Regions from separate parts of the Homo sapiens genome. Here regions 2 and 3 are each reported to be linked to region 1. The links are microRNA targets in miRTarBase. Many come from high-throughput screens and were not tested one by one. Region 1 holds a microRNA gene; each other region holds the end of a gene's coding sequence.
What was found. The annotated mature microRNA hsa-miR-6832-3p reads ACCCUUUUUCUCUUUCCCAG and lies in region 1 at 2,014-2,033, shown strand. An mRNA with a match to its seed (bases 2 to 7 or 8) in the 3' UTR can be bound and repressed. Matches are read on the target gene's strand: a 7mer-m8 pairs with bases 2 to 8, a 7mer-A1 pairs with bases 2 to 7 and ends in A, and an 8mer does both.

Region 2: the mRNA of CHCHD5 is a reported target of hsa-miR-6832-3p. The part of its 3' UTR that is shown has no 7-base or 8-base seed match.
Region 3: miRTarBase lists XRRA1 as a target of hsa-miR-6832-3p. Seed matches in the 3' UTR shown: 7mer-m8 at 1,162-1,168 and 7mer-A1 at 2,292-2,298.

The regions. Positions count from the first base shown.
Region 1 is chr6:31,631,826-31,635,075 of GRCh38, forward strand. It overlaps MIR6832 (microRNA 6832), which reads left to right and starts at 1,962; the gene lies at 1,962-2,033. It overlaps PRRC2A (proline rich coiled-coil 2A), which reads left to right. Exons shown (of 31, transcript NM_004638.4): 16 at 1-1,167; 17 at 1,554-1,822; 18 at 2,034-2,164; 19 at 2,411-2,540; 20 at 2,647-2,732; 21 at 2,928-3,152. RefSeq lists a silencer at 2,854-3,017.
Region 2 is chr2:112,588,264-112,591,513 of GRCh38, forward strand. It overlaps CHCHD5 (coiled-coil-helix-coiled-coil-helix domain containing 5), which reads left to right. Exons shown (of 4, transcript NM_032309.4): 4 at 603-777. The coding sequence ends at 626. Among named protein-coding and RNA genes, the nearest start is that of CHCHD5, 5.3 kb to the left of the region's middle.
Region 3 is chr11:74,840,707-74,843,956 of GRCh38, reverse strand. It overlaps XRRA1 (X-ray radiation resistance associated 1), which reads left to right. Exons shown (of 19, transcript NM_001378157.1): 18 at 1-103; 19 at 504-3,047. The coding sequence ends at 757. RNF169 (ring finger protein 169) reads right to left here. Exons shown (of 6, transcript NM_001098638.2): 6 at 1,544-3,250. Among named protein-coding and RNA genes, the nearest start is that of RNF169, 93 kb to the right of the region's middle. RefSeq lists an enhancer at 1-104.

The DNA of each region.
Region 1 (3,250 bases):
CCGGGAATTCCGCAGTTACCGAGAGTTTCGAGGAGATGATGGGCGTGGAGGTGGGACAGGGGGACCAAACCACCCTCCTGCTCCCCGAGGCCGCACTGCCAGCGAGACACGGAGCGAGGGTTCAGAGTATGAGGAAATCCCCAAGCGGCGCCGGCAGCGGGGCTCAGAAACAGGCAGCGAGACCCATGAGAGTGATCTGGCTCCTTCAGACAAGGAGGCTCCCACACCCAAGGAGGGAACACTCACCCAGGTCCCTCTCGCTCCCCCACCACCAGGAGCCCCACCTTCACCAGCCCCAGCCCGCTTCACTGCCCGGGGTGGGCGAGTCTTCACTCCCAGAGGGGTGCCATCTCGCCGGGGCCGAGGAGGAGGGAGGCCCCCTCCTCAAGTTTGCCCAGGCTGGAGCCCTCCAGCCAAGTCTCTGGCTCCCAAGAAACCTCCCACAGGCCCTTTGCCACCAAGTAAGGAGCCTTTGAAAGAGAAGTTGATCCCAGGGCCTCTGTCCCCTGTGGCGCGCGGAGGCAGCAATGGAGGTAGCAATGTGGGCATGGAAGATGGGGAGCGACCCCGAAGGAGGCGACATGGGAGGGCTCAGCAGCAGGATAAACCGCCTCGTTTCCGGAGGCTGAAGCAGGAACGGGAGAATGCCGCAAGGGGGTCTGAGGGCAAGCCCTCCCTAACCCTTCCAGCCTCCGCTCCTGGACCTGAGGAGGCCCTCACAACAGTCACAGTGGCCCCAGCACCTCGCCGGGCAGCTGCCAAGTCTCCTGATCTGTCAAACCAGAACTCAGACCAAGCCAATGAGGAATGGGAGACTGCATCAGAGAGCAGTGACTTCACCAGTGAGCGCCGAGGGGACAAAGAGGCACCCCCACCAGTACTGCTGACACCCAAGGCTGTGGGAACTCCTGGGGGAGGTGGAGGTGGAGCCGTACCAGGTATTTCAGCCATGTCCCGCGGAGATCTGAGCCAGAGAGCCAAGGATTTGAGTAAACGGAGCTTCTCAAGTCAGCGGCCAGGCATGGAACGGCAGAATCGGCGCCCTGGCCCAGGGGGCAAGGCTGGCAGCAGTGGCAGCAGCAGTGGAGGAGGCGGTGGGGGTCCTGGAGGAAGGACCGGGCCAGGACGAGGCGACAAGAGGAGCTGGCCCTCTCCCAAGAACCGAAGGTGGGTAGGAACAAACAAATTTATTGTGGTTTAAAAATTGGAGGAGGGGGAAAAAGCCTGAGGGAAAGATAAGTTTGGGTGGAGTGGAGATTGTGGCCTGAGGGGCCATGGGCTCTAGAATGTCAGTAGGATTTCCATGTCTGGCTAAGGCAACTGGAAAGCGGTTGGTAGGGTGTTAGAGTCAAGAACACCCACCTATGTATTCATTGCTGGTTCTTTGCTTTCCAGTCTGTGCATCTGTATGCATAGGAATCCTTAGAAGGACTCAAAAACACCTGGACTTTAATAGGGAAGAGAATAGGTTGTAAGCAGAAGTTGGGAAACATAACTTGTGGGAAAAAGTAACGATTTAGTGGATACTGGAGCTAATGCTCTGTTTTCTCCAGTCGTCCTCCAGAGGAGCGTCCCCCGGGGCTTCCCCTGCCTCCCCCACCTCCCAGCAGTTCTGCTGTCTTCCGCCTGGACCAAGTTATCCACAGCAACCCTGCTGGCATCCAACAGGCTCTGGCCCAGCTTAGTAGCCGTCAAGGGAGTGTAACTGCACCAGGGGGTCATCCAAGGCACAAGCCTGGGCTTCCCCAAGCCCCTCAGGGCCCCTCTCCTAGGCCCCCAACCCGATACGAGCCCCAGAGGGTCAACAGCGGCCTCAGTTCTGGTAAGCTGGAGGGGTTATGGGTGGGAATATCTCCATCCCCAGAGAAGGTCAAGTGCTGGAGGGAGCGGGTGGAGAACCTGGCCTAGGGACCCTGCTGCTGGGTGCGTTTCTGCAGGGAGCAAGGGTAGAAGAATTGGGAGGTGGAGTAGAGAGGAAAAGTTAGGGTCAGTGGCAGAGCCAGGCAGATGCTGACCCTTTTTCTCTTTCCCAGACCCCCACTTTGAGGAGCCGGGGCCAATGGTGAGAGGGGTGGGTGGGACTCCTCGGGACTCTGCCGGGGTTAGTCCCTTTCCCCCTAAACGTCGGGAGCGGCCTCCCAGAAAACCAGAGCTGCTACAGGAGGTAAGGGATGGGTTTGAGATTGTGCTTCACTGCACTCTTACTCGTGAAAATTCTTCTGGGTTATGTTTTCTCTGTTTTCTTTCCTGTTTCTTTCACTGTGTTTTTACTCCAGAATTCTCAGTATTAGTCTCCCATGTGTCTCCCTTGTTGTCCCCACACCCTGTGTCACCCCACTCTGTCCTGGCTTCCTATAATTCCCAATTCCCACCCAATTCATGTTTTGCTTCTGGCCCTTCTCATCTGTAGGAATCTTTGCCACCTCCTCATAGCTCTGGATTCTTGGGCTCTAAGCCTGAGGGCCCAGGCCCTCAGGCAGAGTCCAGAGATACAGGCACAGAGGCCCTGACCCCTCACATCTGGAACCGTTTACATACTGGTGAGTAAAGCTGAGTGAAAGGACTATGGTAGAAGGGTTAAGAATGAGAGGGGCTTCTGAACTGTCATCTCCTCACTTCTCTTCTGGTTGGTGCTCCCTTCTCCAGCCACTAGCCGAAAGAGTTACCGGCCCAGCTCCATGGAGCCTTGGATGGAGCCCCTGAGTCCTTTTGAGGATGTGGCTGGCACAGAAGTGAGTGAGGGTGGGAGGGTGTGTCTGAGCTGGGACTTTTTTGAGCACTGGTCATACCCCCCACCTGCTCTGGGTTGAGTCTGGAGCTGTTCTCTCACTTGGCTGTCCCCTTTCTGCAGTTTGTATGTGTGCATCAGTCAGGTATTGGGGTGCTTTCTACCCTGACTTAACTAGCTCCTTCTCCACTCCTCTCAGATGAGTCAGTCTGACAGTGGGGTGGACCTGAGTGGGGATTCTCAGGTGTCATCAGGTCCCTGCAGCCAGCGAAGTTCCCCTGATGGAGGACTCAAGGGGGCAGCAGAGGGACCCCCCAAGAGGCCTGGAGGCTCCTCACCCCTGAATGCTGTTCCTTGTGAGGGTCCACCTGGCTCTGAACCTCCTAGGAGACCACCACCTGCCCCCCACGATGGGGACAGAAAGGTAAAAGACCAAAAAAGGATAAGGGGAATGTTTCCAGGAATCTGACTTTGGCCCTACCTTTTTCTGCTTTTTCTCTCTGCGTGTGTGTTCTGGGCATT
Region 2 (3,250 bases), not on the chromosome of region 1:
TGGGCGATAGAGCGAGACTCTGTCTTCCAAAAAAAAAAAAAAAAGGGAATTAGGTCACATCTCCTCATCATCCCCTCCTTCCTGGGGATGGCATCCCAGTTACAGTTTTTCCTTCCTAGCTAGGGGCAGTGAGATTTGTTGTCTGGTCTACACAATAGCGAACACAAACATTCTCATCTCCTGCAGCATGGCATACAGACTTTACAGAATGTCCTGTGTTTTTGTGGCTGACAATCAAAGTGGTACATGTCCCTCCCATTCCGCACACACCTCTGCTCTTTACCCTGATTAAATTTTCTTCATCGAATTTCTTGGATGTTGACATATTTATTGTCCGTCTCTCCCTGCTTGAGTCAGAGAGTTTTGCCTGCTGGGTACACGGCAGGTGCTCAGTAAATATAGCAGAATGGCGCGTTCCCTGCCTCCCATGACACTTCACCACAGCTGACTTTTTCACATGGCTCAGGGCCAAGGTCATTGCCCAACACCCTTCTCCCTCCAGACTGTGGGCTCTGCAGGGTCTCCCTCTGTGGTGTCTACATAGGCTCCCCAGGCTGGGCACAGAGGAGGTGCTACTAGATGTTGATGTACTTTCTCCACAGGCACAGCCACTTCCTGCCTCCTGAGGACTCCTCTGACGGCAGGAAAACTGGACATGAATGACTGCCCCCACGCCCCTCCCCTGCAGAGTGGCCAGATGGAGTCCTGAGCCCTGGACATGGGCCCGGCTTTCCTGGATATCAGGACTTCCAATAAATAAAGACTCTGTATACTGGGCTTTGATTCCTGCCATCCGTACCTGAGAGGGTCCTAGGAGAGCTGGCTGGGCAGAGTCATCTGTTCCCCAGCTTCACCGGGTGTGCCAAGGAAGTGCCTGGGAAGAACAGGACTCTGCAGCTGTGCCCCAGGGTTGAGACTACCCTGCCTCCCTTGTGAACTCTGCCACACAGCCATTTCCTGACTTCTGCTGCATGTGCCTGGGGTAAAGACCCTCAATCCCTTCCACTCTAGCATTCCCCAAATTGTTATTTTTTTTTAATATATATATTTTTTATTTTATTTTTATTTTTATTTTTTTTTGAGACAGAGTCTCGCTGTCGCCCAGGTTGGAGTGCAGTGGCACGATCTCGGCTCACTGTAGGCTCCGCCCCCCGGGGTTCGTGCCATTCTCCTGCCTCAGCCTCCCTAGTAGCTGGGACTACAGGCGCCCGCCACCTCGCCTGGCTAATTTTTTTTTTTTTTTTTTTTAGTAGAGACAGGGTTTCACCGTGTTAGCCAGGATGGTCTCGATCTCCTGACCTCGTGATCTGCCCACCTCGGCCTCCCAAATTGCTGGGATTACAGGCGTGAGCCACCACGCGCAGCCTATATATATATTTTAAAGACAACGTCTTGCTCTGTTGCCCAGGCTGGAGTACAGTGGTGCGATAATAGCTTACTGCAGCCTCGAACTCCTGGGCTCCAGTGATCCTCTGCCTCAGCCTCCACAGTAGCTAGCACTACCGTAAGCACTTGACACAGTGCCTGGCTGCATTCTCCAAATCTGTTTTCAGTTTTCTGGAGGCTTGGGGGGTGATAAATAATATGCGTCTTTCCCTGCTGAATTCAGAATCAACTGGGCAACAGAGGCATTAGGCAATGGAGATGAAAATACTGGCTTTATTATTGAAAACAACCACATGGAAGGATGTATGGCTTAGAAGGCCATGTACTGGATTTCTTTTCTTTCTTTCTTCTTTTTTTTTTTTTTTTTTCAAGACGGAGTTTCACTCTTGTTGCCCAGGCTGGAGTGCAATGGCGTGATCTCGGCTCACTGCAACCTCTGCCTCCTGAGTTCAAGCAATTCTCCTGCCTCAGCCTCCTGAGTAGCTGGGATTACAGATATCCGCCACCATGCCTGGCTAATTTTTGTATTTCTAGTAGAGATGGGGTTTCACCATGTTGGTCAGGCTGGTCTCAAACTCCTGACCTCAGGTGATCTGCCCGCCTCAGCCTCCCGAAGTGCTGGGATTACAGGCACCGGCCGCCATGCCCGGCTAATTTTTGTATTTCTAGTAGAGACGGGGTTTCACCATGTTGGTCAGGCTGGTCTGTAACTCCTGACCTCAGGTGATCTGCCCACCTCAGCCTCCCAAAGTGCTGGGATTATAGGTGTGAGCCACCGCTTCTGGTCTATGCACTGGATTTCTGTTCTTAGTTTCCAGTTTTCCAGAAGCCAACTCAGAATTTGAGTGCAGATGGTAATTTGAATTTGATTCCAGAAACACTGATAGAGGAATGGAGAAGGGAGACAATAGAGAGGAAGGCAGCCAATAAAAGGTGCATTATCAAGCGAGTTACCACTCTGGGCAACTGGGACTCAGTCCCACTGGGGACCTGTGGGGGACTTTATAGAACATAACCCAGTTACCCTATCAAGGAGCAAGGGAATTGTGTTATCTACCAACTTCCCATCTGTCATTAAGGGGTATTTTCATGGGCATTGACTGGTACTTCTGGCCTGCCCTTTATAGGCCAAGTTCACTTCTGCCATCAGAAGAGGGCCGTAAGCAGAGTATAATGGGATCAAGTGAGCAGCCTTAAACCTGCGGAAGAGATGCTGAGTGGATCTGGGCAGGTACCAACAGTGGCTGCTGTGGCTTCTTCATGCTTCTCAGGAATACAGGCTCCTGCTGTTTGATACAGGCTCCCCAGTAGGGACTGGTCCTAAAGAATAGAAAGCAGACAGGCGTGTATGCAATAGAGGAGGAGACCCCAGAGTGCTGAGCTGAGCATGCCCATGGCCTGCACCCACATTCACCATTCAGACGAGGCCCTCCTCCCTGGAGGTGATCCCAAACCTCTGGAAATTGGAGTAACTGGCCATTTGATACCCAAGGATTATGCTCGGCTTGGAAGAATGAGCCTGGCCTATGGGAGTCTCTCCTAGGGATTAATCTCCAAGACAAAGGAAGTTGTTCATTGGTTTAGGAGCCGGGTAGAAATCCTGTAAGTTCAGGGTTGCAAGATTTTATACCATTTGTCTGAGCTAGGAGGAAACCCAGGTAGTGGAGAGAGAATTGTGATCAGTTCCTGTAACCTGCCACAATCCCTGGTGGACTGAAGAAAGGGTGGCGAATGCAGGAATAAAAGACAAGAGACAAAAGAGTATATTTGGAAGAAGGGGTCAGGGGGCACCTTGCCTCTAGTGGACAAGGGCCCTGAGCTTTACACAGCTTTCTGTATTTATTAGGCAAAAGAGATAGCGAGA
Region 3 (3,250 bases), not on the chromosome of region 1:
CAGAGAATCCCGATTCCACCCCCAAAGAAGACTAGAGCCCAACTTCTGGATGACATCTTCATTCGCTTGCGGGATCCCCGGAACATTACAGAGGCTCCACTAGGTACGGCTCTGCCACAGCTGCCAGGATCCCAGATCCAGTTCACGCCTGCTGGCTAAAGGCAAAGAAAGGGCTTGTGTCAGTGCAGGAAAGGCCCTTAGAGAGCAACTGCCTACATCAGTCTCTACATGTAGATGGACAAAAGGAGAGCCAGCGTGAGGCAGGGAGTTGCCTAAAATCACACAGCATGTTAAGGTCCTGAACCAGGGCTTAAGATAGAGTCAATGCATAGGGGCAGTAGGAAGTCAGTGACTTCCCAAGCTGGAAAGGCCATTTTTAGCCCCTTAGCATCCTCCTGCCACACCATCCCATTTTCCAAGGGTCTCTGGACCCAATCCTCTTGCTTCTGGCTAGGTGAGAACCAGGATGAGCTTGGTGCCTCTCCTGGCTTCTTTTCCTGCAGGTGCTGTCCTGCACCAGTGGACAGAACGGCGGCTGGTGAACCACAAGCAGTACCTGGAGGCCAAGAGGCTGTTGAAGGAGTTCCAGGCACGTTACCGGCAGCTGGTGAGTGGCTCTCTGCGCACAGTGTTCGGGACTACCCCGCTCCCCATGGCCTGCCCAGCGCTGAGTGAGAGCCAGCCCAAGTTCGGCCACTTCCTCGAGTTCATGGATGAGTTCTGCCAGGAGCCCACAGCCAGTGACTCACAAGGCTAGAGCTGTGCATGGGGGCTGTGTGCACCACCCGGCCTGTGCCCCAGCTCTCCCCGAGGGCTCTGTGCCCTGGACCGCACCTCAAGGTTGACCAGCCGGCCACAGGCCTCAGAGCTCAGCTGGGCCCCACTTGCTGGCCACAAGGTGGCATCCCCTTGTCAGGATCTCCCCTCCTTGGCCCAGGCATGACCTGGTGCCTGGCCCAGCGGCAATAAAGAGTGGGTGCACAGGGCAATAGACTGGGTGCCACATGCATTCTTTCTTGGAACCCAGGCCACAGCAGCATTGTCACACTTCCCTCTAAAAATGGTTTTCCAGTTCAGATGCAACAGGGATACATTTGTTCTCTGTTGTATGAGAAACTGACACCAAGGGGATCTTAACAAATTCCTGAACAATGGCTCCAAAAAAGGGTATTTTTAAAAACCAGATCTTGTGAGTACAGCCCTAATGTGCAGGGACAGTGTCATCCTGTATATTCGTTCTTTACTCAGACTCTTTCTTGGTTCCTTCATTAGGAGCATGAATGGTTGAATGTGAACATGACAGTAAATTGGAGCAAACTGTAAACTGGACATAACTTATGCCAAAAGACGTAGTTGTACACCATGGAAACCCCATCCCTGCTCCTAATCTCTACTGCCATTCTGAATGCCAAAGCAAGACATCCAACATGGGGCATCTCCCAGAGCACATACAGCACCAAAAATCCACACACAGCCTAAGCTTAACCCATGTTTTTGTCTGAGATTGTTCACCAGAGACAAGACTCTGACTATAAACAGAACATCCACTTTCATGAGTTTCCTTTACTGTATTCTCAACTTGGGCCTTGCTTCAAGCAGGCAAACATACATTGAAGAATGCACTTTGGTACTGTTTAAATAACAACACATCAGCCCACTTGATTCCATGCCATGTCCTTGCTGACAGAAACATCCCCAACAGGGCATGCCCTGGTCCAAGTCCTCTGTCTTTGTCAAAATGCTCTTCTGATGAGTTGGAGAGGAGGCAGCCAGCAGTGGCAGTCCACAAGGATCCAGGTACCTTCTCCAATCCTAAAGCAGACAGCAGGTTGAATAAAACCAATACACAACCTATTTTCTAGGCAGGAGGGGAAAAGGCCCTTAGGACAATAATATTTGTACAAAGAGTTGAGAGTAAACAAACAGTGTATCAGGTTCAAAAAAAAAAAAACTATTCGTTGGCATTTAAATTTTTTTCCCTTGCATAGTATCTATTCTCTCACTAGGACTTTTAAGTGCTCTGCTGGAGGCTCAGCGTTGGTAATACCATGTTTGATGCAAACTTGAACCCAATGCTCTCATTGGTGGCACAGCTTTGGAGGGTGGTGGCCCCAAGAAGGGGCAATCTGCCTGCTGCTATATTAATCTGGAACCAGGGCCAACAGCTACTCTTGAACTATGGTATTTGAAGAGCGAGTTCATTGCCTGTTTTACCTTAAATGACAGGAAAGGAAGATGAACAAACCTTGCTTTGCCTTGGCTTCAAACTAGTTCTTGATTTAAGACACCAGAAAGGGAGAGAGGGAGTCTGCTTAGAGTTTGAGGTTGCCTCTCACAAGATGACAGTTAAAAGTTGCCACCTTACTTAAAAGGCATTAAGGAGGCATTTACTCACAAAGGAGAGAGAGTAAATTTTTTTCTTAAGAGGAAAAAAATACTGATAATACATAGAACAATCTGCACATCCAGTCTTGGCACTTTTTCCAATTTGACTGATCTCTAAACTGGTGACCCTTGCATATATCTTAGTCTCTTTTCTACAATCTTCTTCAGAAAGCTACAGCAGCTAACAATCATGTATAAAGATGCATTTCCTAGATCATCTTCAGAAGAAAATCTCTTCAGCACTTTCCCTAGAATCTGTCTCCTGACCACCCCGCCCCAGACCTGCTTTCTCTTTTGAGAATTCATAACCAGGTATGTTTAGATACCAGTTCAAAAGACCACTCTATGGGTTGATGAGGAAAAGGCTGCCTGAGGACAATTTAAGACCATAATGAGTTTCCAATTTTTAAAGAAAATTTGGCTAGCTGGCTTTTAATTCTTAATTAAAATCATTAAATTTAATTAAAATTATTCCAATCAAAATATATCACTTTCCAAGATTCCACATTCATATTACTTACTTATACTATGGAGACTTTCTCTACCTGAGCATGTATTCAGGGGCTATAGGTACATTTAACTCTAACTAACTGAAAAAAATCAGGAAGAAAAAACTATTAAAATAAAATAACCTCCTAAATCATTTGGGGGTATCCCCATCATTGGTGCGTGTGTCTGCGTGTGTCAAACTTTAATGATTATTTATTCAGACCCTGGAAAACCACACTATAAAATAGGGCACTGGATCACAAGTTCGTTTGGTTAAAAAAAAAAAAAAAAAAAAGTGGGGGCGGGGGGCAGAGAAGAAGTTTAACTTGGATGATTTCCATGCCCATTCCAGCTGTAACATTCTATGACTGTGACC